Regions from separate parts of the Homo sapiens genome. Here region 1 is linked to region 2. Evidence: fine-mapped expression QTL. A gene starts in region 2. The other region holds a variant in brackets. All regions are shown on one strand. Distances are from middle to middle.

Region 1 (15,582 bases), 250 kb before region 2:
AAGACACTGCCTGGTCTCTGGGCTCCGTGCAAGGACCTGAACAGCTCCCAGCACTCCCCTCTGCCCCCTCCTGCCTCCCAGCTAGAATTCGCGAGAGCAGGCTCACCATGAGGGAGGGGCCCGTGAGCACAGCCGTCTCACCCGGCCTCCTGCACTGGGACCACAGCGGACATTAGGCCTGGTCGGAGTCAGGAAACAGTCTCTGAGCTCTTCCCTGGCTCCAGAGGCCAGGACGCAGGTGGCCACCTCAAATGTACCTATGGCCCTGGGGGTCAAAACCCCTGGGGTCTCATCTGGCGGCATCACACTGGATGTGGCCCACGGGAAGCTCTCCCCAAACCCTCTTCCCCACTGGGCTGGTGCCTGCTCACAAAAAGCCCTTTCAGAATCTTCCTACTGCCCCAACACACTCAAGAGGCAGCTTCCAGGGTCCACAGTCCAAAGTGATTTGCATGCGATTTGTTCCAGCAAATGCCTGAGAAGCTATTTAATATCTGAGGAATAGATTAGGACCCAGGGTCATGGAATGTAAATATTCTAAATATAAATACTTTGGGCCAGGCACAGTGGCTCAGGCCTCTTATCCCAGCTCTTTGGGAGGCTGAGGGGAGCAGATCGCTTCAGCTCAGGAGTTAGAGACCAGCCTGGGCAACACAGCAAAACCATGTCTCTACAAAATTACAAAAATTAACTGGGTGTGGTGGTGGGTGCCTGTAGTCCCAGCTACTTGGGAGGCTGAGGTGGGAGGATCATCTGAGCCCAGGAGGTTGAGGCTGCAGGGAGCTGTGATCGTGTGACTGCACCCCAGCCTGGGTGACAAAGTGAGAGGTTTTCTAAATAAATAAATAATAAATAAATACTTTGATCATGGAAAATAGTTGCTATACGACAATCACAGACAACCGAAGTGATTTCGTAGAATCCAAGTCTTTTTTACCTAATCTAGTTTTTTTAAGTATGGAGTCTGACTCTCCTTGAGGGCTTCTGTAAAGTCCAACCTGTGACTCACAAGTGAGACAATTGCATCAAACGAAACATCAGGCTGGGTGCAGTGCCTCATGACTGTAATCCCAGCACTTTGGGAGGCCAAGGCAGAAGGATCACTTGAGGCCTGGAGTTTGAGACCAGCCTGGAATAACATGGCAAAACCCCAGCTCTACAAATAATTTTTTTAAAATGTGGGCAGGCCCAGTGGCTCACACCTGTAATCTCAGCACTTTGGGAGGCCAAGGCAAGCAGATCACTTGAGGTCAGGAGTTCGAGGCCACAGTGAAACCCCACCTCTACTAAAAATACAAAAAAATTAGCCGGGCATGGTGGTGCACACCTGTAATCCCAGCTACTCAGGAGGCTGAGGCAGGAGAATCGCTTGAACCTGGGAGGCGGAGGTTGCAGTGAGTCAGGATGGTACCGCTGCACTCCAGCCTGGACTACAGAGCCAGACTCCGTCTCAAAATAATAATAATAATAATAATAATAATAATTAACCCAGCATGGTGGTGGGCGCCTGTGATCCCAGCTATTCAGGAGACCGAGATGGGAGGATGGCTTAAGCCCAGGTGGTCAAGGCTGCAGTGAGTTGTGACTGTGCCACTGCACTCCAGCCTGGGCAATGGAGCCTGTTAAAAACTAAATAAATAAATAAATAAATCTTTTAAAAAAAAAATAAATAAAAGAAAGAAAGAAAAATTAGGTGACAAGACAATAGTGTCAGCCCTGAGTGCACAGGACTGATTTTTTCCCAAATGACTGTGGTTGAGAGTCTAGGCAGCAGCCACCTGGAGATGTGACTCAATAACAAGAGAAAATCTTCTAAGTGAACTTTTCCTTCTTATTGAGATAGAATCATTGAATTTAGCGCTTTCTTCTTAAAAGAGGAGGTGTTGTTTGTTTGTTTTTCCTTTTTTCCTATTGTGCCAAGGCTGGAAAAGTGGAATCCTAGCATCTTTTATATGGGAAAGGAAATGTTAGCCACTGGCCCTGGTGCCTGGTTGACTCCTAGGAACTGAACGCTTGTGTCCCTCCAAAACCCATATGTTGAAACGCTAATCCCCATGGTGACGGTGTGAGGCACTGAGGCCTTTGTGAGGTTAGTGTTAGATTAGGTCATGAAGGTGGAGCCCGCATGAATGGCGTGATGGAGAATTTTCTGTGTCAACTTGACTGGGCTAACAGGTATCTGTCCAGGTTGCTGGTAGAGCATGATTTCAGGGTGCGTCTGTGACTGTGTTTCCAAAAGCATTTGAGTCAGCAGACTGCATTAAGAAGATCCATTTCCACCAATGTGGATGAGCGTTACCCAGTCCATGCAGGATCACGAGGGCACAACAGGTGGAGAAAGGGCAATTTCATTCTCTCTTTCCTCTGGAGCTGGGACACACATCTTCTGCTCTCAGACATTGGAGCTCCTGGTTCTCAAGCCCCACACCCCCTGAGATGATGCCTCCAGCCCTTGGCCTCACGCTGGGGGTCACACCATCAGCTCCCCTCATTCTCAGGCCTTCAGACTCACACCGAATCACACTGCTGGCTTTCTTGCATCTCCAGCTTGTAGACGGCCTTCTATGGGACTTGTAAGCCACCATAGTCGTGTGTGCCAATTCCCCTCATAAATCCCCTCTCCTGTTTATCTGCATTTCTCCTATTGGTTCTGTTCCTCTGGAGATCCCTGACTAACACAAATGGGATCAGTGCCCTTATAAGAACAGGCATGAGAGCACTTGCTGCCCCTCTGTCTCCACTCTCGGCCACGTGAGGACACAGCAATTAGACAGCCCTCTGCCCTCACCAGAACCGGCCATGCCGGTACCCCAACCTTGGACTTCCAGCCTCCAGGACTGTGAGACATTCATGTCTGTTGTTTGAGTCCCCAGTGTACCACTCTGTCACAGCAGCCTGAGGCTGAAGCCATGGCCGACCACCAGCATCTGGTCATGCCTCATTGGTCCCCCAGAGCAGCTTCTGGCCCAGAGCTCTGTGAACAGCATCCTGCTTCATGGGGATGCTAGTGCCTTTTCTGTTCCATGCACTGGGCTGCTGGGTTAGGCTCTCCCACCTCCCTTGAGGACCCCATGAGCAGCTGTGCGATAACACACTGGGAGAACCGGAACCACCGTGAGAAGTGGGCCGGGGCAAGACGTGGGAATGTCGGGGTAGGGCAGGACATCCAGGTTGCACCACTGCCGATGTGGGGGGAGCAGCAGAAACAGCCCAGAGCAGCAAAACTGCATCAAGAGGGGGTATTGGCACTGTGAGGTGGCTTCCCTTTCCCTAGACCATCCCTGATGGTTCCTCTGCCTCCTGGTCCCCAAGCCTGATGCCCAGCCCTGGGGCAGGGACTCTGGTCCTCACCCTACCTTCGTCCTCATGTCTCCCTGGGAGCCAAGTGCAGAAGAAGCCCTGCCTCCCCTTTCCAGGGGGTCTTGGGAATGTGGACAGTTCTCTCTGGTCCCCAGAGTGCAGGTTCTGGGGCAGTTGTTTAAGAAGGGTGAGAAGCAAAGGCCGGAATGAACGCTCACCCTGCGCTGTAACATGGGGACTGCATGGTGGGGGCTGGCATTGAGTCCCCACTCCTCTTTCACAGGCACCTTGTTCCTCAGTCCCCCTCAGGCAAATCCCAGCCCTCCTTTCCCAACAAGACACTGCTCTAAAGGACAGTGACTCAGGGCCCCGCTGCCACGGGCTGTCGCATCCCCATCACCCCTCGTGTCTGCTATCGCTCCTGGATTGGGGAGGGGGCCTGTCACTGGAGCACTGGGCTCAGGCTTTCCTGGCATCCTGGGGGAATGACACCAAGCAGCTCAGAGGAGAGATTTTCTGTCTCTGGTTCTGCGTCCATTCTGAAACACGCTGCGAGTAACATGAGAGGCAGTGTGCAGGTGCTAGGGCCTATGGGTTACAGGGAGCTGTGACCAGCTGGGAATTTCTGAGGCATCCCTGGGCGTGAGCCCCACAGGGACATCACTGCCTCTGTAGAAAGGTGGAGAATCGTGTCGAGGGAGGTTGCTGGGAGCATGCAAAGGCCCCGCATCCCGTGGGGGGTAACCAGGACCAAGTAAGGGAAGCCCCACGCCCCCACGGGGAAAGGGAGGCTGATGTTTCAGATCCCCCACAGTGTGCTAAGCACGCGTAGGCTTTCTCACTGAATCCTCCAACACAGTGACTGCACCTTATCCATTGTCTCGTATGTTCCTGGCACTCAGCGGGGTGAGTCCCATTTTTCAATCTTCATGAAAATCACTGTGAAGAACCCACTGCTGTGCCCTATTTTCTGCTGAATGCACAGAACTCAACAGCCTTCCCTGAAGGAACACGTGGACCCAGGTGAGTGCACCTGTAGGCTCTGCCCCCACCCCACAAGTCCCCTACAGTCCCCTGAAGCTACAGGCTGGATAGTGTCTCCTGAGGAGTCACTACCTTGGAGCCCCAGCCAGACTCAGAAGAAAATCGAAGGCTGGGGGGCCGGGCGCAGTGGCTCATGCCTGTAATCCCAGCACTTTGGGAGACCAAAGCAGGAGGATCACGAGGTCACAAGATTGAGACCATCTTGGCTAACACGGTGAAACCCCGTCTCTACTAAAAATGCAAAAAATTAGCCGGGCGTGGTGGCGGGTGCCTGTAGTCGCAGCTACTCAGGAGGCTGAGGCAGGAGAATGGGGTGAACCCGGGAGGCGGAGCTTGCAGTGAGCCGAGATCACACCACTGCACTCCAGCCTGGGCGATAGAGTGAGACTCCGTCACAAAAAAAAAAAGAAAGAAAGAAAAGAAATTGGAGGCTGAGTGTGAGGTTCTAAGAAGGCACCACTGGAAAGCGGAGTGAGACCCTTCAGGTCATGTGCAAAGGCGTTTATGATGAAAATAATAAAGGAAATTGAAGACAACATTCATTCCCCTCAGCTTTTTCTTTTTTTTTTTTCTTGAGATGGAGTCTTGCTCTGTCACCCAGGCTGGAGTGCAGTGGCGAAATCTCGGCTCACTGCAATCTCCACCTCCCAGGTTCAAGCAATTATCCTGCCTCAGCCTCCCGAGTAGCTGGGACTACAGGCACGTGCCACCGTGCCCGGCTATTTTTTTGTATTTTTAGTAGAGATGGAGTTTCACCGTGTTAGCCAGGATGGTCTCGATCTCCCAACCTCATGATCCACCTACTTTGGCCTCCCAAAGTGCTGGAATTACAGGCATGAGCCACTGTGCCCGGCCTCACATCAGTTTTTAAAGGAAAGAATCCAGGCCTTAAAGAGTTAAGGAGTGAATAGATCCGGGGTCTCTTCTGAGGTGATGAGAAGGTTGGAAACTAAAGAGAGCTGATGGTGACACAAGGAATGCACCAAATGCCACTGAGTTGTCCGCTTGAACACGGTCAGTTCATAACACATGTGTTAAGCTGCTTGATTTTGCCATTCCACAAATATACACAGATCAAAACATCATGTTGTGCATTGTATGAAGAATTTTTATTTGTCCATTAAAAATAAATTTTAAAAGTGTAATAAAATGGTGAATTGTATGCTACATAAATTTTACTTTTTAAAGTAAACGTTTTTCCTTTTAAAAAAAGAGTTAAACAGAAAAAAGTTGAAGACCTGCCCCAGCCTCCTGGGGATTGACAAGAGTGACTTTCACAGAGGGGACCTTGTGCTTCCAGAGCACCAGGCACCTGGTGTGGTGCAGACCCTGGAGAGCCCCCAGCTGAGGGCCCGTCCCCTCTTGCCGCTTCCTCTGGGCCAGTCTCTGAGCTCCCATTTTTGCAGCCTGGAAGGAGGAGACCTCTTTGCTATGCAGGTTATAGGAGATTTCCAAGGAAGGGAAAGAAATCAGAGAATTCACTCTCTGGTCAGAATCCAAGGCTGGAGGATGAAGGTGAGAACTGCTGGCCAGCCACAACCCTCGGGCCTAAGAGCTGGAGGACACAGTCCCCAAACCCCTCACAGGTCTTATCCCTGCCCATCCTGGAGAGAGACCAGCGAACCAGCAGTCGGAGCCAGGAGTCTGTGGGCGCAGAGGGAACTACCTGCTGGAAAGAGCCTGTCTCACTCAGCCTGACGTCGCCCTGCCCTGACGCTGGGACCAGAGGGTGTTCGGGCAGCTCTGACCTGGTGGCCCTCAGAGAGGGAGCCTCCTCCCCCACTCTCCAGGCTTTTCTTGGTGCTCATGCTGCCCCCTGGACACTGTTCTGTGTTAGATCACTCACCTCTGTCCCCAGGAGCCTGATTATCATTCACAATGAGAAAGAGATTCAAAATAAAATGCCTCTTATTATGCCCAATCAACCTTTATGGGCAGTCAATTGGCCATAAGCAAATCTTTCCTCTCCCGGGTCAGCCCTACGTGTCTGTGAATGAAGGTCTGTCCCGTCAGCCTTTTGTGAAACTCTTAATACTTCAGGGTTTGTGTAAGCGGACTGGGCTTTCTCATGGTTCAGGCCTGTGCGCAGCTTTCAGGATAAATGCACACATCGCACACACAGACCCAGAGAGGCACACGTGGAGAGATACATGCAGATGCATGCACACACACGGCTTCACTCACCTCTCGCACACACACGCTCACACATGCATGCTCTGATCCCTCCAAAGACCACTCCTGCCACTTCTGTTGCTACCGCACCCTAGTATTTCATGAAAAGCAAACAAATTGCATCTCCTTGATTACATTTCCTGATTTCTTAGAAAGCAAAATTGTAGTAATTGGTTTACATTAAGCGTCATGCTATTTGGGAGAGGGAAATTAAATAGAATACCGTTAGAGCTGATTCGTAGGCAAACATAGCTAAATAAAACAAGCCTAAACAACCATCTTTACAGGGCAAATTGCAGTTTCAGTAACTGCTGCAACAAAACGCTATTCCACGGTGTCTGGGCGGTAGGATGGTAATGGGGATTCCAGGTCCGGGAGAACTTTCGGACCCTCTGGACAGTCCTGTGAGGCCTCAGATGGCTCAGGAGGCCCACCTGGTGCCTGGGGTTCGGAGGCACTAACAAAGGTTTCAGGTTCTGAAAGTCAGCTCTGCAACCGCCACTCCTTGCCAGGCTGCAGGCTCAGCTCAGGAGGTGAGTGGTTCAGGACTGTGGCTTGCCCATGGTGCTGAGTGTGACACGTGTAACCTTCAGAGCCCTCCACCCCTCTGCCACAGGTGTGCGGGCACTAGGCTCAGGAGCACCCCTGGGGGAGCTGTGAGGATGTGGCAAGGACTCCACACCAACCCCTCCCACAGTCCTGCAGCCTCTGCCACCCAGGACCAAGTCCCTGACCGAGTCCCTGAGTGTGTGTGGCATCCCTCCCTCTCGGCTCTATGCTCCAGCGTCATGTGAAAATTGGGGCCTAATGGGGTTCAAGGAGAAAACATCAAACCACATCTATGGTTGGCAGAAGTCCGTATGGGAGAGGTCAATTCCAGGAGCAGGTGTTTAACTTGGGACCTGCTTAGCTGGCCTAGGCTCTGTCAGCACCTGACCATTGCGGTTCATAAGGACCATGAGCTCTGGCAAC[A/G]GGGAAACAGGGGAAGGGCGGGCCCAGCCCCATTTTCCCAGTTTTAACACAAAAAGTCCTGCATCCCAGGAACCCCCTCAGTCCCAAATAAAGCGAGATGGTTTGGGGCTCTATTTGCCACCTTGATGGAGGCTGCAGAACTGTCCCACATCAAGGCTGGGATTCTTTCATGAATGACAGGGCGGTTCCAGGGCACAGGGCAGAACCGACCCCACCATGCACAGCTGGGTCTTGGAGCAGGTTCTGCTGTGAAACATCCACCCTACCGGCAGATCATAGCTGAGCACAGACCCTCTCTCCTGCAGTGCACTCTCCACCTGGAGGATCCTGCCGAGGAGGGGGCACTCTCCACCTGGCCGATGGGCTTCCGCTTATCTCTCTCTCTGGAATGCCCTGGCCTCCATTTGGAGCTGGTGCCCAGCCAAGCAACTCCTTGGACATAGAAAATAAGAAGAAAAGCAAGAGAGGGGACCTTTAGGTACGTTTAAAGGCCCTGAGCAGTGACTGTCCTCTCAGTAGGCTGGAGCCAGCTCCCAGTCCCACCCTGCCATTTGGTAGCTGTGAGGCCTGGCGCAAGTCGCTGGGCCTCTGTGGGCATCTGTGCTTTCTTCTTCTATACATGGGACAGGTTTGTGTTGAATGAGGAACATTGCACTGTGTCTGGCACCTAATATCAAGCAGAGAGAAGGGAGAAGCTACCCAGCACAATAAACCAGTTTTTTGTTTGTTTGTTTGTTTTTGAGATGGAATCTCGCTCTGTCACCCAGGCTGGAGTACAGTGATGTCATCTCTGCTTACTGCAACCTCTGCCTCCTGGGTTCAAGTGATTCTCCTGCCTCAGCCTCCCAAGTAGCTGGGACTACAGGCACCCACCACCACACCCAGCTAATTTTTGTATTTTTAGTAGAGACGGGGTTTCACCATGTTGGCAAGGCTGGTCTCAAACTCCTGACCTCAGGCGATCCGCCCACCTCAGCCTCCCAAAGTGCTGGGATTACAGGCATAAGCCACTGTGCCCAGCCAAATAAACCACTTTTTAGGGAAAAAAAATGGGGTGGGGGTAGAGATTCCACAATGGCTCCTGCCCACCTCGTCTTCCCCGGCTGCAGATTCAGCGAAGGGAGGTGCGGCCAGCGAGGCAGGGGCAGGTGGGGACACGCAGCTCCTGTTCCCCCTTCATGGCCCAGTGACTTTGAGGGCTAAATCCACCCATGTCTCACTGCTCCTCTCTCCCCCACCTCGTCTGGGTGTCTCGCTCTATGATCTTCTTACCCGTGGTTCTAATTATCTCTTTGTATCTCCTGTGAAACCAGCGCTTTAGAAGCTCTGCGCCACCGCTCCCTCTCTTGACGGTAGGCCTGACAGTTGGAACAGAAGCCCTTGGAATGATGAATCTGCTTTATTAAAAGTCCTTTGTTTAAAAGTATCAGCCCCGCCTTCCATGTCAAGACACAGCCTGCTCGCAGAGGAGAAAGAGCCAGGCTCACGGCACGGAGGGAAAAATGTCTTCAAACAGCTATTCACGTTTTTAAAATTTTTAACTGGATGAAAGGTGTTCTCCACTACATTTCCTCCCTCGAGTTGTTTTAATTCATTCGACCTAAGTTGCTGTTTAAACCAGGGGATAGCGTCCCAGAAGGGAAACTAAGGGGCACACACAGGGAACCACGGTGATTCCTCCACATCCTCACTCAGCAGCCGCCACCAAACACCAGGGACCGGCCAGGTATCAGGCCCTGTGCTGGGCAGAGACCCAGGGTAGAAATCAGAGACAGCCTCTGCACTCACTGGAAGCTGAGTTTATGCTGGCGATCAAGGGAGAACTCTTGGGGGAAGCCAGTAAATCCCAAGCTAAGAAACAGGTCCCAAGTGGCTGATACCCCTCTGGTCATGATAGAAGAAGATGCACTATAATGAAAACAAAGACAAATTCTAGAGGAAAACTTTCGGAACTTGGAGCTTGTAAGATTCCCATGGAATATACCATTTCTGTGGTAGATTCATTTGTAATTTTTTTAAAAGAAGAATCATGTTGGCAGTATAAATTTGATCTTCAGATTCATAGGGGAAACAGGAGTTTCCATTTTTCAATCACCCTGCACCACCCACCTCAGCAGGGCCCAAGGCCTCATACCAGTCCCTTAATGAACATCACAACTCAGAAATCCAGCTTCCAGGCCCTCCCAGTCTCACTACTCCATTTAAGGCACCTACAGCTCAAGCGTTTCCTGTTCCTTGTTAATTTCTAGCCCAGGGCCATTCCAAATGTGTGCGTGTGTGTGTGTGTGTGTGTGTGCAGGCGTGCATTCATATACTCCACACTGTGTATCTGTTGAAAGGTTATAGTTCACCTGTTATTTCTGTGCATTTTTAGTAGGGGACACGCCACGCTACCTCAGCCCATCATTTTCCTGGAACCAGACATTTGGTTATGTAATTCCAAATGTTTTTACAGAGATGATGCATTTTCCCATTTATAAAAAAAAGATGTGTTCTCATGGCGATTGGAGAATATAAAACCCTAAAATGGAAAGCGGAGGAGTGACTAGAAATTAAGCTTTAGAAACTGAATACATGGCTGTCAATGGTACCAACGTCTCTTTCGTAGTGATAGGATTGATTGAGAAAATCCTCCACGGTGGGTTAGAGGATGCTAAAGAAACATTGAAATCTTTGAGCTACAGACTCAGATGGCCAAGAGGCTCCAGAGTGGCAGGCCTGGTAGTGAGTGGAGCTGCAGCAATTGCACCTGCTGAGGGTGAGGGACAGACAAGTGACAGAACCTAAACTAGTGCCCCGGCCCCCACCCAGACTTTGCAATCACCCATTGAGTATCCTCTGTCCGGTGACTTGAGATCAAGACCAAGGAGAAAAGAAAAGTTCACATGTCAAAAATATATCCACAAGCTTCGACCAAACGATAACTTTGAAACATGCCTTTCTGTCTCTCTTGGAAAAGGATTTCTGAATGTCGGAGTGAGATTTGTTACCTGATGATGCCTCAGGTCTGTGAAGACTTCTCTTCCCAGGTGAGAGGACCGAGGGCTTTGATAAACAGCGGTTCTGAGTTGCAAAATTATTAGCAAGATGGTCGGTTTCCACTGAAATAAGAGTTTTTGTTTTAATTTATATTGTAATGAAAGCTTGTAACAGTACCATACCATAAACACAAACAGCACAATCTTATAAAAATTTCATCTTTATCTATTTTGGGGAGAAATAGTCCTGTCTGCCTAATTGAAGCATCTGTCATTCTGACATTAAATAGTGCATGCTTGATCTTTTTATTATATCGTGGGACATTTCTCACACACTGTTAAATTGAAATAACGCTGCTCACTTGGAGATAAAGGGACATAATAGGTATTTTATAATGAGGGGGACAGGATTTATCCTGAATTCAGGCCGAGAACTGTTTTATGTTTTTCCTGGGGTTTGCTGCCCTAAAGGGAGCTTTGGCTCGTCGTAGCTCTCAACACTCCAATAAGAGAAGAATCAAACGAGAAACAGTTAGACAAGCATTAGAAATGTGATTCAGGCAGTCAGTCATCTCTGCACTCTGGGAACAGCTCTATGGGCAGCTCAGGTGGGCGGGGCCTGGCCCAACCACAGACAGCATGTCAGTGTTGAAAACTAAATCCCATTTGCTATTTTTTAATAGTCCAATCTCTCCCCTGGAGCATCCAAGCCTTTGTTTCAAAATATTTGATTCAACTCACTCTATTTCACTTCCCTGAATAAAATCATAGACTTATGATTCCATAGTGTTCATGAAATCATAGACTTTCAGTGCTCAAAGACTTTAAGTCACTTACTCAAAGCATCTCACTAGTGTCTGAGGACTCTGTAGTCACCCTACAAAGCCATCCTCCTTCCAGGATTTAAACATTTCCAGGGTTAGGAGTTTAATCAAGACTTCCCAGTTTAAATACTGACTCCTCTGTGTGATGCTGGGCAGGTTTCACAGCCTCTCTCTGCCTCAGCTTCTTTATTGTCTATAATATAGCGATGGTAATAGCACCCAATAAGAGTACTAATACTTCCTTTATTATTTCCAGCACAACCACTCTGACTTTCATTTCTGTTAGTCATAGCTCCTTAAACCTCTCTGTGCCTACTACTAAGCCAAGGGATCCACCATGAGAGTCATGGTGATGATAGTGATGGTGATAATGATGACGATTATGATGATGATGGTGGTGGTGATGGTGATGATGGTGATGATGGAGATGGTAACGATGGTGATGATGATAATGGTAATGATGGTATTGGTGATGACGGTGATCACAGTGATTATGGTAAGGATGGTGGTGATGATGGTAGTGATGATGGTGATGGTGATGGTGTTGGTGGTGATGAAGATGGTGATCACAGTGATGATAGTAAGGATGGTGGTGATGATAATGATAATGGTGATGGTGGTGGTGTGGTGGTGGTGGTGGTGGTGATGATAATGATAATGGTGTGATGGTGGTGGTGTGGTAGTGGTGGTGGTGATGATGATGATGATGTAATGATGATGGTGATGGTGATGGTGGTAATGATGATGGTGATCACAGTGATGATAGTAAGAATGGTGGTGATGATAATGGTGGTGGTGGTGGTGATGGTGACAATGATGTAATGATGATGGTGATGATGACGGTGGTAATCATGATAGTAATTACCGTGATGAAAGTAAGGACGGTGTCTATGATAGTGGTGATGGTGGTGGTAGTGGTAACGATGATCATGGTGATCATGTGATGACAACACCCAGCCAACATTCATGGGGCATTTACTAAGTGTTCACACTGTTTTCAATGCTTTGTACATATTCATTCATTTTACCCCAACAGCAGTCCTATGACATAGGGACAATAATTGCAAATGAGAACATTGGAGCTTATGTTTGCTCAAGGCTGCCTACCTGGCAAGGGTCTGACTGGGATTCCAACCTAGGCAGCTGCTCCATCGATCAGCCCTGCACACCTTCTCCGTGTTGTGCAAACCAAAAGGCCCCCTCTTCTCCTGGGTGCCCAAGGGCAGAGGCCAGAGTGCTAAGGTGACGCTTCCTCTTGGCATCCCAAGGAGAGGAGACCAGGTGGCTCACATTAAGTAAATTCAATTCCAAGGACAGCCTGGCTGCCAATGCTTCTCTCTCGACACAGTGAGTTACACAAAAAGGATAACAAAGCCAATGACCATGAATTTCCTGAACTATGTTCAGTAGAAAGAGGTTTATTTTATGTAGGAAATGCCTACATAAAAGATGGGGTTTATTATATTGTTGATACCAAATCCTGAGTGGATGATGCATATATGAGAAGATAAATGGCTCATATAGTCTATTTATGTGTGAAGTATGACATGCCAGCTCACCACTGGGCCCTTCTGTTGGTACATTCTGCTATCTCGCTCCCAAAATTTCTGCCCAGCCCCATTCACTGACCTGGGAGTCAGCAGTTAGATGTCATAGGCCCAAAATATTTAAAGTCTTTCTTTAAATTGCAATTTTAAGTGTTTAAATTATACCAACATCTCTTTTAGCCCTACTCCTTCTTATGTAAGAGCTACCTTTATATTCTCTGAAAGGAATCAAATGTAAATTTCCCTGAACCATGAACTGTGAAAACAGCATCAATGTATCTTAGGTCTAATAGAGAGTGAGAGAAGGATTTTGCTTGTTTTTCCAGTAACCTGTGGGTAGCAGAGGTTTTCATAAGATAAGTCATTGACTTGGAGTTTCAGAATAATCACATTAAGAATCTGACCCTGAAGACTCTTTAGCTGGGGATAAGGACTCTGTGAAATAGAGTAACAATGACAGCTTTCACCCCATGCCACAGCCAATAGAAGCCAGGCCCAGATGATACGCCCAGGAGGTCATCACATCCAGGGGCAGAATTCCACCTGAGAACTAGGTCTGTGCTGTGACTACAAGAGGCCAGAAACCGATGAGAGAAGTTTTCCCATGCTTTCCCCGTGACAACACCAGACACACACATACACATGCACACAGGCATGCACACACACTCTTACATGCACATGTATGTACACATACGTCAGCATTCATGTGTCTGTGTGTACACACACACACACACGCAAACACACATGCAGGCTCTCGTGCTGTGTTCTGTCTGCACCTGCCTGCAGCTAAGGAGGCTGTGGTTGCCTTTCCCTACACTCATGTAAAGGGCTCCTCAGCCACTTCACTCTTCCTGGGCCCAATGGCACCAAGTCCTCGGGAGCCAGAGTGAGTTGGAGAAATGATCGGGGGAGGGGAAAGGATATTTGTTGTGACTTTGGCTTGGAGCACTGAAGCATCTCAATAATGTGTTGGGAAAATCAGCGGAGCAATGGGTCACGAAATCCCATCTCTCCTGGCAGCCAGGATGGAAATGGGAAGGGCTGAGCCAGGCGCTGTGGCTCACGCCTATAATCCCAGCACTTTGGGAGGCCGAGGCGGGCAGATCATGAGGTCAGGAGATCGAGACCATCCTGGCTAACACGGTGAAACCTCATCTCTACTAAAAATACAAAAAATTTTCTGGGCATGGGGCAGGCGCCTGTAGTCCCAGCTACTCGGGAAGCCGAGGCAGGAGAATGGTGTGAACCCGGGAGGCGGAGGTTGCAGTGAGCCGAGATCGCGCCACTGCACTCCAACCTGGGCAACAGAGGGAGAATCCATCTCAAAAAAAAAAATGGAAATGGGAAGGCTCTGCTGGCAGGGCTGCAGGGCTACCAGGAGGGTGGCAAAGTGCTCGTTGTACCCCGAGAGGGGACCTGGAGGCTCCAGGGTAAACCAGACGCTGCTAAAGTCGGCTCCCTCTGGAGGAAGGTTCTCTCGCAGGTCACTGGGTGCAGCAAGGACACAGCAGCAGCACCCCCATTGCACACCTCAGCCAGGGCCCAGAGTCAGAGCCTGGACAGAGGATAGAGTTGGGCAGCATCAGAAAGCCCAGCTTCCTCTGGAATTTCTGATCCTGGCCATATTCACTTCCTGTGGTTGCTGTCACAAATTGCTGCAAAATTAGTGGCTTAAAACAGCACAAATGTATTCTCTTACAACTCTGGAAGTCTGAAATGTGTTATGCGAGGATGAAACCAAGGAGTCCGCAGAGCTGCCTTCCTTTCTGGAGCTCCAGGGTGTCCGCGTCTCACCTTCACCGTTTCCTCGATACTGCGCACGTTCTGCTGCTGGTGGCCCCTCCTCCATCTCCAGGGTGCATCCGTCCACCCTCCACTCCACCATCCCTGCTCCTTTTCCTGACTCCATCCCTCCTGCCTCCCTCTTAGAAGCACTCCTCATTCCACTGGGCCCACCAGGTAGAACAGGATGATCCACTGTCTCCAACCCTTAATTTAATCTTATCTGCAAAATCCCTTTTGCCATGTAAGTGACATCTTTACAGGGTTCAGGGACTAGGATGTAGACATCTTTGAGGTCCTTTATTCTTTCGACCACCCTCACTTGAAGAGTGTCCCTGGGGCAGGCCTGAGGTCACGAGGGAGCTGGGAGTGGAGTGGACCAGCTGATGGATGAAGGTTTCTCGGGTGAGGAGGGTGAGGCCCAGCCTCACAGACAGAGATGATCAGGCTGGGTGGGGGTGGAGCCCAGAGCAGACGTGGGCCTCCCTCTCCCAACCTCCCAACTCCCAGGCTACCAGCAGCCCTCTTCTCTGAGACAGCTTTCTCCAAAGGAGACATTGAGCTGCCCACTGAGACTCTGGGGTCCCATCCTCTGCCCAGGCTTTGGGGTCCCGTCTCCCTGGAATGGGAGATTCCTTCCCCTAAAGAGAAACCTAGAAAAGAGGCAGCTGGGGCCCTTGGGGAACCCACTTACTGGCAGTTGTGAGCCCCAGCACATGTGGAACCCAGTTTGGAAAGCACAGACCAGGAACTGGGTGGCCCACGACTCTTAAGGTCACAGGGGAGGACTCAGCCCAGGATCAAACCCCACTGGGGTGGCCGGGGCCCATGGCAGGGAGGACATCCCACCCCAGCTTCTCACACATCCTGACCCCTGGCCCTACAGCGTGCAAGGTTGGGTGGGAAGCGTGGCAGGAAGGGCAGCCCTTGGAACTTCACGGGCCATCGCACGGTGCCTGCACC
Region 2 (14,549 bases):
TGCCACCAACACACAGTCTCTACTGTCCTGCATCCCTAAAAGTGGAGTGATGCCTATTCACAGCTCACTTTCAAGTGGCTGAGACACTAGGCGGGAGAGCCTGCAAGCCCCACCCCGCCCTCCGGCCGCACCCCTGCCTTCCCGCCACACCCCTGCCTTCCCACTCACTCTTTCCTGCATCTTCCCACGGCCTTTGCTGCCCCTAGGGGGCCCTCATGGCCTTTACTGACAGCCCGTGACGTCTCAGTAGCTCAGATGAAACCTGTTTGATTTGAAAGCTGATGATTTTAGTTCCTGAAGGCCACACATGGGAACCGACCTGGACTTGAGGGTCATCGTTCCCAGTCCTGCCTGGGTCCACGTCCTGCCAAAATGCGATACCCGTGAGAACTGGGCAGGGCCCCACAGTGTCTCCTCCTGGGTGGCCTTGACCTGTGTCGGTGGCAGCCGAGGACGGATGCTTGGGTTTCAATGAAGGCAACTGAACACGCACAGCCGCCAAGAGAGGCCGCGGGGCGGGGGAACCTCAGAACCCCGTAATCTCTGCCCTGGGTGCAGACAGTTCTTCAGGAATTCCTCATCCTGCACATGGCCTGAGCATGGCTACACGGCCACAGAGGGAAAAACAGCTGCCCATCAATGACTAGTACGTTTGCGGGAAAATCCATTTATCTGTTGGCCCTGCCATGCCCCTGATGTTTGACCAAGTGAGCCTACGGTGCGCTGGGCACAGGGGCATCTGCGAGTGGGAGGCAGACGTGGATCTGCAGGGAGGGACCTGTCCACATGCCCGCTCCCAGCCTGAACCTCACTCTGCCATCAGCCCGATCCCCAGCCGGTTTCCACTGCCAGCGGCCCCTGCTTGAAGGCAAGGGAGCTCTCAAAATAGGGCTTTTCATCTTGGTGTTTTTCTTCCAGACTGCCCAAAGGTTCTCATAAAATGGCAATTTTTTTTTTCATCTAGTTGGAAATTTAGCCTTCTCCAGGCTCTGCAAATCCCAGGCCTTTTCTTCAAAGGACACTGCAGCGTGATCCCAGCGGAGGGCTGGCAGCAAGGCACAAAGTGGCCCATCGCTCGGAGCTTTTCTGCTGGATGATGTTGGAGTTCACGATTTGAATGTTCCCCCCTGGTGTGCAGTTTCACTGATACCCAAATGGAGCATGTTCTTCATACAGTCAGGGCAAGCGGAGACTACGGGGTTCCCGAGGTTCTCCTGCCCTGCAGCCTCTCTCTGCAGCTGTGCACATGCACCATGACTCCCCATGGAGGGTGCAGCTCCACCCTGGCGGGAGCCACGCCCACAGCTCCCACAGCCCTGCCTGTGCACTGCCTGCAGTGCTCTTTACAACGTGTGTGCAGAGAGCCCAACAAACTTTTGATGAATGAAACCGGTGGACTCCACCAGGAGACAAGTCCTGGCTTCCGCTGGAGCATCTCCACCGGGCCTGCGTCGGTGAAAAGCAGAGGCAAGCGAGTTCTCCTAGGTAGACCTCCACATCCTGCCTACTTACACAGTGATGGTTAGCTGCCATCAATAAGAACAGAAGCACAATTCAATTTTTAGAACACACACAATTAGGTGCCCATAAAAAACGGAAGCCAAAAATTAAAAGACAAATGAATGAGAAAGAACAAAACAAAACCACAATATTGAGAAACGTTAAGGAGGACTCAAATTTCCTGGCAAGGGGGCAGAGAGGGGCCAGGGCTGGGTGTGAACCTGGGAAGACACGGCCAGGCCGGGCTGACCAAGCCGGGTCAGGCCATGGGTCATGACCGCCTGGAGACCACAAGGGCGTCGGGCTGGGTCAGATGCCATGGACCCACCACTGCCTCCTGATCCCAGCACGTTGTAGGATATATGAAGCAGAAAATGGTCTACTCTACTCAAACATCGTCATGTCACAGACTACTGATCAGTCTACAAAGCGGGCTACAAGAGTCCAGTGGATGCTCAGCCTCCAGTGAGGGCCCCAGGGGCGCAGGCATTGGGCCCTTCCACCGGCACCTCCTTCCCCATCTCTGCACGGCGCCAACAGTTCCTATGTACTCTACACCTGATTCTGATGCCACCAACTCCAGAAGAGACCCTCTGCCCCATGCTGGTGGCTCCCTGAAGTTTCTGGGCATCTTCCAACTGCCCCAGGGGTAGTCCTGTGAGTCTCTCAGGCACCCTAGCAGGCTCAGAGCCTACATCCTTCTCCGCTGTGTCCTTCATTCAAGGCAGGACCTTGGCACATGTGCACGGGGCAGACACGGGAGGAGCTGCGATACTTTCCAACAGCAGACGGCTGTCCTACCACAGGGTTATTTTTGCCCAGCTAAGTCGGGTGGACCGAGAGGATAGGAGAGGGTGGGCTATTAAGAAAACATTAGTTTAGGTCAATTCAAAGAGAACTTTTTTTTTTTTTTTGACAAAGTTTCACTCTGTCACCCAGGCTGGAGTGCAGTGGTGCGATGACATTTTAAAAGCATGCTGCAAGCTTTTTTTCCCCTGCCTTCTCCCTCTCTCTCTCTCTTTCTACCTATTACTTCTTTCTTTTAATTATAAAAGGCCATATGCAAGAGAGGCCCTGTCATCATACAGGCCACCATCTGTTGGCAGGAATGCAATGTGCTCTGGCCGGGGTGGCCTCAGTTAACGGGTCTACCGACTGCTAGTCAGTTGAAAAATCTCTTCAACTTTCTCACTGGCCCTACAGTGTTTGTCAAAGGCAAATACTGAACTGGGGCACAGCAGTGTTTTAAGTCAGAAATTTGTGGTATGGGCAAGAATGCAAAGTTTCCTCCAATCCACAATCCTCAAGTTCTCTGTGTGCGTCTCGCCCCCGGCCAGCCAGCCAGCCAGCCAATGTCCTCTGGGTATCACCAGCCTCCGTGAACAAAACACGGACCCTGCCTTCCAGGGGCGTACAGTTCAGGTGGGGGGCCAGCCACGTACAAGCCTGCACAGACTTCACACGCCTGCCACCATGGGGAGTCTCACTGTGCCCTGACCTGGCCGGGTGGGGGCACAGCTAATCAGGAATAAGAACAGAAGCAGACACAGCGAACCCGGGAAGCTGTGGTGTGGAGGTGGCTTCGGCCAAGCCTGGTTTTGGGGAACCCAGGAAACCGTGGTGTGGAGGTGGCTTCGGCCGAGCCTGGTTTTCTGCTCCCTCCAGGGTCTCCTGCAATTCCACATGGCAGCTTGAGGTGGAGCGGGGGAGAGAATTCAAGATTGGCTCCTCTGCCCACGCCAACACCTCCCACCTCGTCAGGAGGGGTAGCCTGTCCAGACAGGGCTCCACTGCACATCCAGCCTTGACTAGGAGGCTCTGTTTCCCCCGGGTGGGCCTGAAAGGGGCCTGCATCCTACAGGATGAGGGAGGGAGAGGGGGCCCCAGCCACTTCCTCCCAGGATCCTCACCCGACACCCCCAGCTCTGTGCTGTTGCCCATGTGGCCTCTCCCCCGTGGCTCCCATCACACTGCAAACGTACAATTCTGTGTGATGATTCCATGCCTGGGCTTGCGCCTGGCCCAGTCCCCAGAACACAGTGGAGCTTGATACCTTGAGTGAATGAGTGGATGCGCCATGCTCTGGGATAGCACCGGAGAAACGGTCCTGGCCTGCCACGGGGTCCTGGTAGAAGAGTGCAGAACACTAAAAAAGCAGCAACCGGCAGATTGAATGTAGGGGGCGGGGGAGCATCCAGGAAGGGCCCCCTGAGGACAGGAGATATAAGCTGAGTTGAGGTTTAACAAATGGATTAGCCAGGCAAAACGTGGGTTGGGGAGCTGGGGAAAGAAGGTTTTCAGGCACAGGGAAGTGGGGAAGAGGCTTTGCAGTGGTCAGGAGCTGAGGGAGGCACTGTGGATAGCAGAGGGGCAGGGGAACAGGTGCTGGGACTCTGTGCGGCTGGAGCAGGGAGCGGCAACGGTGAGCAAGCTCAGAAGCCCTTCCGCACATTCATTGGACAAACACCTGCTGGGCACCCACAGTGTGCCAGGCACCATGCCAGGACTTACAGGCCACTCTAAGACTGTGGCTCTGGATCCCAGAAGCAGGGGATCACCCCAACAGCTGTGGGCTGCCCAGGCCAGAGGAAAAGGAGAGACCAGCCGTGAGGCTTCAAAGTCTAGAATTAACAGCAACCGGCATCTGACAGGATGTGGGCAGGGAGAGAGAGACATTCACCAATGGCCTGGGTGTCAGGCCTTACAGCTGGGAGGCTGGAAACCATGCTCATCCCAGACCTGGGGAGAGGACAGACAACATTGGTGAAGGGAAGGAGAGTGCCCTTTGGGATGTTAAAAGTCCACATGGCTCGGAGCCCAGAGCCCCCATCGGGCGGGCGAGGCCAGGCAGTGAGGCATTTACATCAACTGGCACCAACCACAAACAAGACAGGCAAACACCAGCCAAGCCCCAGTGGATGAAAACTTTGAGCTCCCAAGGACTGGGAAATAAAACCACTGAACCAAGCTTATTATGAAATCAATCTCTGCGAAAATGGGACAGGCTAGGTGTTTAACAAAGTATCGCTCGCTCTCATTTTTTTCTGAACAGCTGGCAGCGATTATATTAAGTTTCCATTTCAAACGCATTTCCTGCCAGTTACACATTTGTCTCCTCCCCTTCTGTACAACATGGATAATAACACGGGAGAAGCGCAGGGCTAGGAAGAGAGAGGGTACAACAGCCAGGTAGGACATGTGTGTGTGTGTGTACACCAGGGCTGCAAGCATCTTCACTCACTGCCGAAAGCAAAACCCCACGTGCAGTCTAATTTGAGGGCTCCACCTAATTACCAAACGTCACACTTCTAAAGAGAGTGGAGGCTGCATAGAGCTCAAGCTGGCAGGATCCTTAAATACTCTCCCTTCTCAGGCACTAAAAGGAGGCATCAGCTGCATGTCTGGGCTTTGAGAGAGTCATACCGTAAGAGAAGGCACACTGATGCTTTTGGAAGAGATTATGAATCACACCCTGCCTTGGAACAGTGCACAGAGGGACCCTGAGCAGGCCATGAAGCCACAATGCAATGCAGTTCACTTTTCAACCTTTGTAGTTTAAGTGGAAAACCTAATGCTTCTGACAAAACTGCCTGATTTAAATGTTCTCACTTGAAAAAAAAAATAATGATTTAAAAAGGAAATAAGACTCCCATTTATTTGCAAAGCACAGTACGGGCTGCTGGGTGCACCCTGCGCCCGAGCACCTGGGAGCCAGCCCTGGACTGCGCAGCCACCTGCGGGCGGAGAGGGGAGGGGCCAGGTGTCCTCGGCCTCTGATGTGGCTTCCACCCTGCGCCCTTTTCTGAAGACACACATCCTAGAGCCCAGAGAACTTGAGGGCTGGAGGGTTTAAGGCAAGGCTGGATTTCATTTCTATGTTGAAATTCTTAAGAACAGAACAGTGTGCCGAGCGCGGTGGCTCACGCCTGTAATCCCAGCATTTTGGGAGGCCGCAGCAGGCGGACCACGAGGTCAGGAGATCGAGATCATCCTAGCTAACACGGTGAAACCCCGTCTCTACTAAAAATACAAAAAAATTAGCCGGGTGTGGTGGCGGGAGCCTGTAGTCCCAGCTACTCGGGAGGCTGAGGCAGGAGAATGGCGTGAACCCGGGAGGCAGAGCTTGCAGTGAGCCGAGATTGCGTCACTCCACTCCAGCCTGGGCGACATAGCGAGACTCCCGTCAAAAAAAAAAAAGAAAAGAAAAGAACAGTGGGCCTGGCACGGTGGCTCACGCCTGTAATCCCAGCACTTTGGGAGGCCAAGGTGGGCGGATTATTTGAGGTCAGGAGTTCGAGACCAGCCTGACCAACATGATGAAACCCCATCTCTACTAAAAATACAAAAATTAGCCAGGTGTGGTGGCGCCTGCCTGTAATCCCAGCTACTCAGGAGGCTGAGGCAGGAGAATGGCTTGAGCCCATGAGGCGGAGGTTGCAGTGAGCTGAGATCGCGCCACTGCACTCCAGCCTGGGTGACAGAGCGAGACTCCGTCTCAAAAAACAAACAAACAAACAAAAAAACCCACAACAGAACAGTGGTCCTCAGCTTTACAAACACCTCCCTCAGCGGCGGCCAAAGAGGACGCATCACAGCAGCCCAGGCCTGCTAGGGGCGTGTTTGCTGGAGGAGGCGTGGCCGCCGTGTGTCCATCCAGACCTGATAGGGCGCGGCCATTGGAGGAGGCGTGGCCGCTGCGGGTCCACCCAGGCCTGCTAGGGGCGTGGCCATTGGAAAAGGCGTGGCCCCTGCGAGTCCACGTTGGCCCCGGAGAGTAACGGGACGGCGGAGGGGTCATTTCCCGCCTTGCACGTAACGGGGGACGAAAACCGGCCCCCAGCCCGACGCCGGACCCTGGCCTCCTGGGCCCACCGACGGCCTCCACTAAGGCCCCCTCCCGCCCGCAACGTGGGGGACAGCTGAGGCCACTTCCCGGGCGGGCCACCCCAACCCAAAGCGGCATGTCGCGGGGCAGCACAGCCTGCGACAAGCGCGCAAAGCTCCCCAGCGGGACCGCAGCACGGGCAGGCCTGGGAGTCCCTCGCGCTGCTCAAGGCCGCTAACCGGCACTCAGAAACCAGCGCTCTGCGGCACTGGAGAAAGCACTTCCCGCCCTCCTGCAGGCTGTTAGCCAGGGGATGCAAGGGGAGGGGCCCCTCACGGACGTCCCGCCCGCCCCTCTCAAACATGGCGGCCACAGGCGCACCAAAGGAAGAGCCCCTCACAAACATGGCCGTCCGCCCCTCTCATACATGGCGCCAAAGAGGCTTCAAGGGAAGCGCCCCTCACGAACATGGTTGCCTGCCCCTCTCAAACATAGCGGCCACAGGCGCACCAAGAGAAGCGCCCCTTACAAACATGGCCGTCTGCCCCTCTCAAACATGGTGGCCAAAGAGGCTTCAAGGGAAGAGCCCCTCAAGAACATGGTTGCTCCCCCCTCAAGAACATAGTTGCCCACCTCGCTCAAACATGGCGGCCACAGGTGCACCAAGGGAAGCGCCGTTCACGAACATGGCCGTCTGCCCCTTTCAAATATGGCGAACACAGAAGCTACAAAAAAAGCACCCCCCGCAAACATAATCTCTCAGGCCTGCCACGGGCGTGGGAAACATAGCGGCTACAGGGGTGCCAAGGGACGCGCCCTCATGAACATGGCCGGCCACAGGCCGACTTCCTGCTCCAGTGTCCCACCACTGGCCCAAGGCCTGTGACCTTCGCCCGCCGCTTACGAAAGAGCCAACACGGGGGGGGGGGGGGGGGGAATCACATGACGAGGGTGCTGCACTGTGATTGGCTGTGCTGACGTCGGACGCCGCCGCGGCGCGCTCTGCAGACTCCGGGTCGCCGCTCCGCCGGGACGCGTTGGCCGGGGCGCGCGGTGCTTGGCTGCGGTGCTCACACTCATGAGGAGCCGGAAGGTGAGGGCTGGGTCCCGGCAGCAGCTGCGCCGGGCAGGGCGGGGACTCTGGGTCACCTGCTGTCTGGAGAACCGGGGCGGGGTCACGGGGTGCCTGTGGCCTAGGAGCGGCCTCCGCTTGGGCCTCGCCCCCGGCAGTAGTTGGGGGGCTCCAGGCCACGCTCCCGGGAGAAGGAGGGCTGCCAGGTCACGCCCCTGTGAAAAGGGGGCTCCGGGCCACGCCCTCGGAAGAAGTGGAGCTCACAGGTCACGTCCCCGGGAGAAGGGGGCTCCCAGGTTACCCACCCCCGCAGAATGGGGCCTCTGGGCCACACCCCCGAGAGAAGGGGAGCTCCCAGGCCATGCCCGCGGGAGAAGGGGGGCTCCGGTCCACGCCCTCGGGAGAAGTGGAGCTCACAGTTCACGTCCTGGGCAACAGGGGGCTCCCAGGTCACGCCCCCTTGAAGGGAGGTTTCGGGCCACTTTCCTAGGAAGGTGGGGCACCCTCTCCAGAACTGGTTTCAACTCCTGGTAGTGCTAGATGCTGCAGAGCTGAGTTTGTGCCCCTCAACTGCTGCCACTCCAATGGACGTCACACAGCAAGTGACCTCAGCTTGGCCCCATCTACTGAATGTGCTAAAAGTGGGGTGATGAGGGATCCACCAAGAGGGTGGTGAGGATTGAAGGGGGGTGCCAGTGTCTGGCAAGGGGCAAGTGCTCATTGCGTGGGTGTAACAGTTAAGGCGAAGGACCCTTTTCACAGTGGACCCGGCGCGGGTCCCGGTCCACTTGGGAGGCTCTGAGCTGCATGGAGGCTCTCCTGGTTTGTTCAAATGGAGTGGCCACTTGTGAATTCCAACTCCTTTTACTATTTTTATCTTTGAACCAAAACTTGTCTCCTGTAGGCACATATACTTGGATCTTTTTTAAAATGCAGTCTGGTAGTTTCTGCCTTTTGATTGAATTGTTTAGCCCATGCACATTTAATATTATTGATACACTGTAGTTAGGTTTACATTTGCCATTTTACTTTTTCTTTTCTTTATACAAGTCTGTCTTTTTCTTCCCCTGTTCCTTCTTTAAGTGGATTAAAGTGAATATTTCCTAATGTAGCATTTTAATTTAATGATTTTTTTTCCACAACTTTTTTGGGTTTTTTCCAGTGCTTTATGTTTTACCGTATACAGCTTAATCTTCATATTCTCCATATACATCTTAAGCTTCAGATTTGTACTAGGTTAATTCCAAGTGATACAGAAATGTTACTCTTATATGGTTATTTTTGTGGTATTTTGTTATATGTATTACATCTGATAATGTTACAAACTCAACAGTACTGTGTTATCATTATTACTTTCTGTCTGTGGTCATTTCCTTAGCCAGCAGGGGTTTGCTTTCACCCACTTTGTTTTGTTATTGGCAAATATAGTACATGTCTGTATATATTATACACATATTACTGTATACAATTGCTTTTTAAATTAAGAGAAGGAGGTAGAGGAATAGGCATTTAAACTATATAAGAACATAATTACCTTTACTGGTGCTGTTTTTGTGTGTGTGTGGTTTTGAATTACTGTCTGGGGTCACTTGCTTTCAGCCTGATGAACTTCTTTTAGTGTTTCTTGTAAAGTGAGTTTTGTTGTTGTTGTTGTTGTTGTTGTTGTTGTTGTTGTTTTTGCTTTGAGACCAGAGTCTCACTCTGTTGCCCAGGCTGGAGTGCAGAGGTGTGATCTCGGCCCACTGCAACCTCTGCCTCCCGGGTTCAAGTGATTCTCACCTCAGCCTCTGGAATGGCTGGGATTACAGGAGGCTGCCACTACGCCCGGCTAATTTTTGTGTTTTTACTGGAGACAGGTTTTCACCATGTTGGCGAGGCTGGTCTAAAACTCCTGACCTCAGGTGATCACTGCCTCAGCCTCCCAAAGTGGTGGGATTACAGGCATGAGCCACCATGCCCAGCCCATTTTTGAAGTATAGCTTTGCTGGATATAGGATTCTTGGTTGACAAGTTTATTTGAGCATGTTGAATATGTTTGAATATTCTCCATTGTTTCAGTCAGTTCATTTATTGAGGTTCCCTTCTAAGTGGCTTTCTTCTTGGGGCTTTCAAGGTTTTGTTCTCTTTCAAGATTTTGCCTTTGATCTTTGTATTTTTACAGTGATGTGTCTGTGGATCTCTTTGCATGTATCCTATTTGGAGTTCTGTTCATTAAGATTCCTGGATATGGGGCCAGGCACGGTGGCTCACGCCTGTAATCCCAGCACTTTGGGAGGCTGAGGCAGGCGGATCACAAGGTCAGGAGATTGATACCATCCTGGCTAACACAGTGAAACCCTATCTCTACTAAAAATACAAAAAATTAGCGGGGCGTGGTGGCGGGCGCCTGTAGTTCCAGCTACTTGGGAGGCTGAGGCGGGAGAATGGCATGAACCTGGGGGGCGGAGCTTGCAGTGAGCCAAGATTATGCCACTGTACTCCAGCCTGGGCGATAGAGTGAGACTCCGTCTCAAAAAAAAAAGATTCCTGGATATATAGGTTAATGTTTTTCTGTAAATTTGAGAAGTTCTCAGCCATTATTTCTTCAAATATTTTTTCTGCTCCTTTCTCTCTGCATTCCTGGTGGTTCTTATTTTGTGTATGTTAGTGCACTTAATGATGTCCAGCATTTCTCTGCAGCTTGCTTTATTTTTCTTCGTTCTTTTTTTCTCTGTGTTCTTCAGCATGCATAATCTATCGATCTGTCTTCAAGTTTGCTTATCCTGCCAGTTCAGTTCTACTATTAAGCCCTTCTAGTGAATTTTGTTATTTCAGGTTTTGTACTTTTCTACTCCAGAATTTCCATTTGGTTTTTAAGTAATTTATCTTTATTGATAGTCTCTTTGATGCAGCATTATCTTATGTTTCTTCTTTATTCATGATCTTGATATTGTTTATCATGGCTACCTTGGTCCTTTATATATGTATAAATCCAACATCTGGTCACTCTCACAGACAGCTTCTGTGGCCTGCTTTTATTCCAGTGTATGAGCCTACTTTTCTTTTTCTTTGAGTGCTTCATAATTTTTTGTTGGAATTATGCCTTCATAATTTTTTTGACATTTTAGATAATACATTTTAGCAATTCTGGGTACTGTCCCCAACCCTGGGGCTTGTCATTGTTAATATGCTTATTTGTTTAGCAACTGGGTAGATTGTTTTGATAAAGTATATTTCCCCTGCCACAGTGTTCAGCCTGTGATGTTGCTGGTGGGGGGTGGCACCCAGCCACTCTGGATGACAGTGGTTTTAGTGAGGTCCTTTTCCTCTTTCCCTGACCACATCCAGCTGTTGAACTTCGCTAATGCCAGGTTATTGTGCTGTTCTCAGCAACAGCCTGGGCATAAGTTGCTCTACAAACTAATCCAATCAAATTGTGGCTTCTTCGAAGGGATACTTTCTAAGGTCAGTGTTTGGTTAGTTTGTTCTGTGTCCAAGAGGCCTCCTCCCAGCCGTGTTAGTCTCTGGTTCTCTTCTGCGAACTGGTTGGCCTACAATTTGGCCTATTGCTTGATTCTCCACTGCCTCCACCCCCTTCGTCACAGCATCCACGGTACTTGAACAGCTCCCTTAGGCCGGAACTTCTCCACATTCCATGGCAGGGAATTTGGTGCCTTTGGGCAGGTGTAAGAGCTGTCTGTTTAGTTGCCTGCCTCTCATCCCAGGCAGAGCCTCTGAGCCAGGGCCTGCAGCTGAGGACAGTAATGGGCTCCTCTCTGAATAGGGGCTGGGGGAGCTAGCAGCAGCCTGAGATCCTCCAAATGTGTCTTCCCCAGCCTGGAACCACCTCATATCTAGGACGGGGTTGATGGGGCCCCAGTCTTCTCCGTTCACTGGGCGGAGCCTCTTGCAGAGGCTTAAACCGTACTGGTAGAATGGAGCCAAGGTGAAGCCTTCATTCTACAAATAGGGTCTGAGCAGAAAGGAGGGCCCCTCTTCTCAATCCTACTCACTCAGGACCTGGTCTCAGTCACAGGTGGGATGAGAGCAGAAAGGGAAGCACTGCTATCCTGCCTCTCCTGGGAAGACACCCCGCTGCCTGGGAGCTGGGGAGGTGGCCCTGTGTTCTTGGCTGCAGCAGGATGGAGCTCAAGTGCCACAGACTCTCCGTGTCCTTACCAAATGTATGTAGGTGTTCTGGAGCAAGTGTTTCTTCATTTGCTGGGTGCCCATAGGACCATTTCCAAAGGCTCTCTAAATGGCTGTTTTGGGACTGCTCATTACTCTCTGAGAAGGTCAGTGAAGCTCCTCGAGCCATCATGTTGAAGTCAGTCTCGGCCAGCCCTTTTGGAGAAACCATGTTTGTGCTTCTGACATACCAGTTATTAAACAATCTACTGGAATGAGGAGAATCTCAATGATGAGAAAGTCTTTCCTTTTTTGGACTGTGGGAGCAGTCCAAGCTGCCCAGCTGCAGAGCAGGAATCTGCAAGTGAGACTGTGACCAATTCTTGACATTTTGGAGTTGACACCTTGGAGGTGGTTAATCCATGACGAAACTGAAGCTAAGCCGATCTCATGTTTTGACTCCTGTCAATCCGGAGAGGACAGCAAATGGCCTGCTCAGGTGTCTGTTAACAGCCAGCGCTTCCAGGCCCACCAGATCCTCAGGTGTCTGTTAACAGCCAGCGCTTCCAGCCCAGCAGATCATCTGGCTTTTCTCTGCAGAAGGGGCCAAAAGGTCCACCTGATGAACCTGTTGCACGCGAAAAGTTCAGAACCACTGCTGCCAAGATGCTGACAGAAGCCTTGAGAAGCACCTGCTGCGGGAAAAGACGTGCAGGCGTAGAACACAGAGCGGGTGGCAGCTTCTTCAGTTCAATCCCCACCTCAGGCAGTTGTTGGGGGTCATATCTAGGGTGAGCTGTGGTGATGGAATAGAGATTTGGAAGCCAGGCATCACTCGTATAACCTCATAAGCTCCTTACCCAAGTTGTCCTCATCTGAAATGGGTGTGCCACTCCTTTAAAGCTGTTCAGGCACCGAGCTGGGCTCCCCACACAGCATACTCCAGCACAGAGCAGCAAAGCGCCCGGAGGAGGGCTCACAGCAGGGAGGAGAGGTGGGGCAGTGGCTTTCTAGGTCAGAGATGTCTTTTCCCTACGAGGCACGTGATGGCGTTTTAGGGAGATGGGCTTGTTTAAGACCCAGTGGGAGGATTTTGATGAGAGATGTTTATGGCAACTCTTAGCAAGTTCTGTAACCTCTGTTGCCTCAGTCCCCTTGGTGTAACTGTGACCATGACGTCTGCCGGGGCTCTCAGCAAAGCCCTGCCCTTGTGAGAGGACGGAGGCGCAGCCCCCGGTGTGCTGTGGTAGCAGGCACTTCACCCAGCCTGTGGGCAACTGGCGTGTCCTGTGTACAGCAGGCGGGCGTCCTGGCCTCCGGTGGGCTGCTGCCTGCTCTTCTCCCTCCTGTTTCAGACACACACTCTGACTGCCACAGTATCACAGGACCTTGGAGCTGCCACCCCACAGGGTTTCTGGAGCTGTCTTGGGCTACGGGGTGCATGGCTGAGACAGATTATTTCTTTTTTTTTTTTTTTTTGAGACGGAGTCTTGCTCTGTCACCCAGGCTGGAGTGCGGTGGCGCAATCTCGGCTCACTGCAAGCTCCGCCTCCTGGGTTCACGCCATTCTCCTGCCTCAGCCTCCCAAGTAGCTGGGACTACAGGCGCCCACCACCACGCCCGGCTAATTTTTTGTATTTTTAGTAGAGACGGGGTTTCACTGTGTTAGCCGGGATGGTCTCGATCTCCTGACCTTGTGATCCACCTGCCTCAGCCTCCCAAAGTGCTGGGATTACAGCCGTGAGCCACCGCGCCCAGCCGAGACAGATTATTTCTGTGTTTTATTTTTTTGTTTTTTTCCTTTTTTTATTTCTCTTATCTGCTGTTGGGCAGGGCACTCTTCATCCGTCCCCTTCTGGGTTCCAGTTCTAGGGCCTGTTGGCAGCAGCTCTTGGGCCTTTCCCGGCCATGTCAACCTGCATTGCTCCTGTTTGTTGCTTCTACTACTCACACTCATTCCTTTCGAGTTTTCTAAGTGCAGTGTGGTATTGTGGACTGGATTCTGGAACAGAAAAACGGTTCATGGAGAAACCGATAAAATACAAATAAAATCTATAGTTTAGTGAAGAGTACCGTAATGTCACTAATTTCTTAATGTTGACAATGTCCTGTAGTTGTTTAACATTAGTGGAAGCTGAGTGAAGGCTACATGGCAACTCCCTGTACTATTTTATTATTATTATTTTTTCAGAGACACTGTCTCACTCTGTCACCCAGGTGGAGTGCAGTGGTGCAGTCATAGCTCACTACAGCCTCAGACTCCTGGGATCAAGTGATCCTCTCACCTCAGCCTCCCACATAGCTGGGACTACAGGTGCACACCACCACACCTGGCTAATTTTTAAAAAAATTTTTTAAAGATGGGCTTTCGCTGTATTGCCCAGGCTGGTCTTGAACTCCTGGGCTCGAGCGATCCTCCTACCTCAGCTTCCCAAGTAGCTGGGATTACAGGTGTGAGCTATCACACCAGTTTCTTTGTACTATTTTTTGCAACTTTCTGAATGCCGAAAATTATTCCTAAATAGTTATTTTAAATGTTATGTCTTTAATTAATTTCTTTCTTGTTATTAGAGGAGTTTGCTTTGCATTCAGGATAAAAGAGAGGTGGACCAGTTTGTTAATATTAAAATTTGTGAGACAGTCGCTAGCTGCATTCAGCTAATAGAATAGGAGTCTAATTTGAGGAAGAGAAACTTTGGTTTCCTCATGTTACCTTTTTTTAAAAACTTTGACAACGTATGAAAGTTGGAGAGCCTTCTAAGGAAGGGCATGTGCTGCTTATTCTAAACACTTTGAAGTTGACTTAATTTCCACTAAAGGACAAATGGTGGCTACTAGAAATATACAAGATAAGGGGGACAGATCGTCCCAAGCCTCCAAAATCGTGGAAATAGTAGATCCTGTATCCTAAATCCAGGCACAGTTTCATTTGGATTTACACATTCGGGCCACAGCTGTCTCCACAAAGATGATAAAATCCTGGGAGTGGGAGGGGCGGTCTTCGGGTGTTCTTTAGGTGGGAAATTCTCGTCTACATGTTCATGC

What was found. PIP is the estimated chance that this variant, and not a neighbour inherited with it, causes the effect.
Region 1: its variant is the best candidate, but not a certain one, in a credible set for the expression of C1orf174 in follicular helper T cells (Schmiedel 2018, PIP 0.77).

What each region holds. Positions count from the first base shown.
Region 1 is chr1:4,140,979-4,156,560 of GRCh38, reverse strand. No RefSeq gene overlaps it. Among named protein-coding and RNA genes, the nearest start is that of LINC02780, 170 kb to the right of the region's middle. RefSeq lists enhancers at 3,479-3,978, 3,979-4,480. The variant A/G (reference allele first, on the strand shown) is at 7,489.
Region 2 is chr1:3,893,041-3,907,589 of GRCh38, reverse strand. C1orf174 (chromosome 1 open reading frame 174) reads left to right here and starts at 7,318. Exons shown (of 4, transcript NM_207356.3): 1 at 7,318-7,418. The coding sequence starts at 7,404. It overlaps LINC01134 (long intergenic non-protein coding RNA 1134), which reads right to left and starts at 7,186. Exons shown (of 4, transcript NR_024455.1): 1 at 6,959-7,186; 2 at 3,554-3,625. RefSeq lists silencers at 89-148, 6,238-6,417, 7,498-7,567 and enhancers at 6,618-6,877, 6,517-7,086, 7,087-7,655, 7,656-8,226.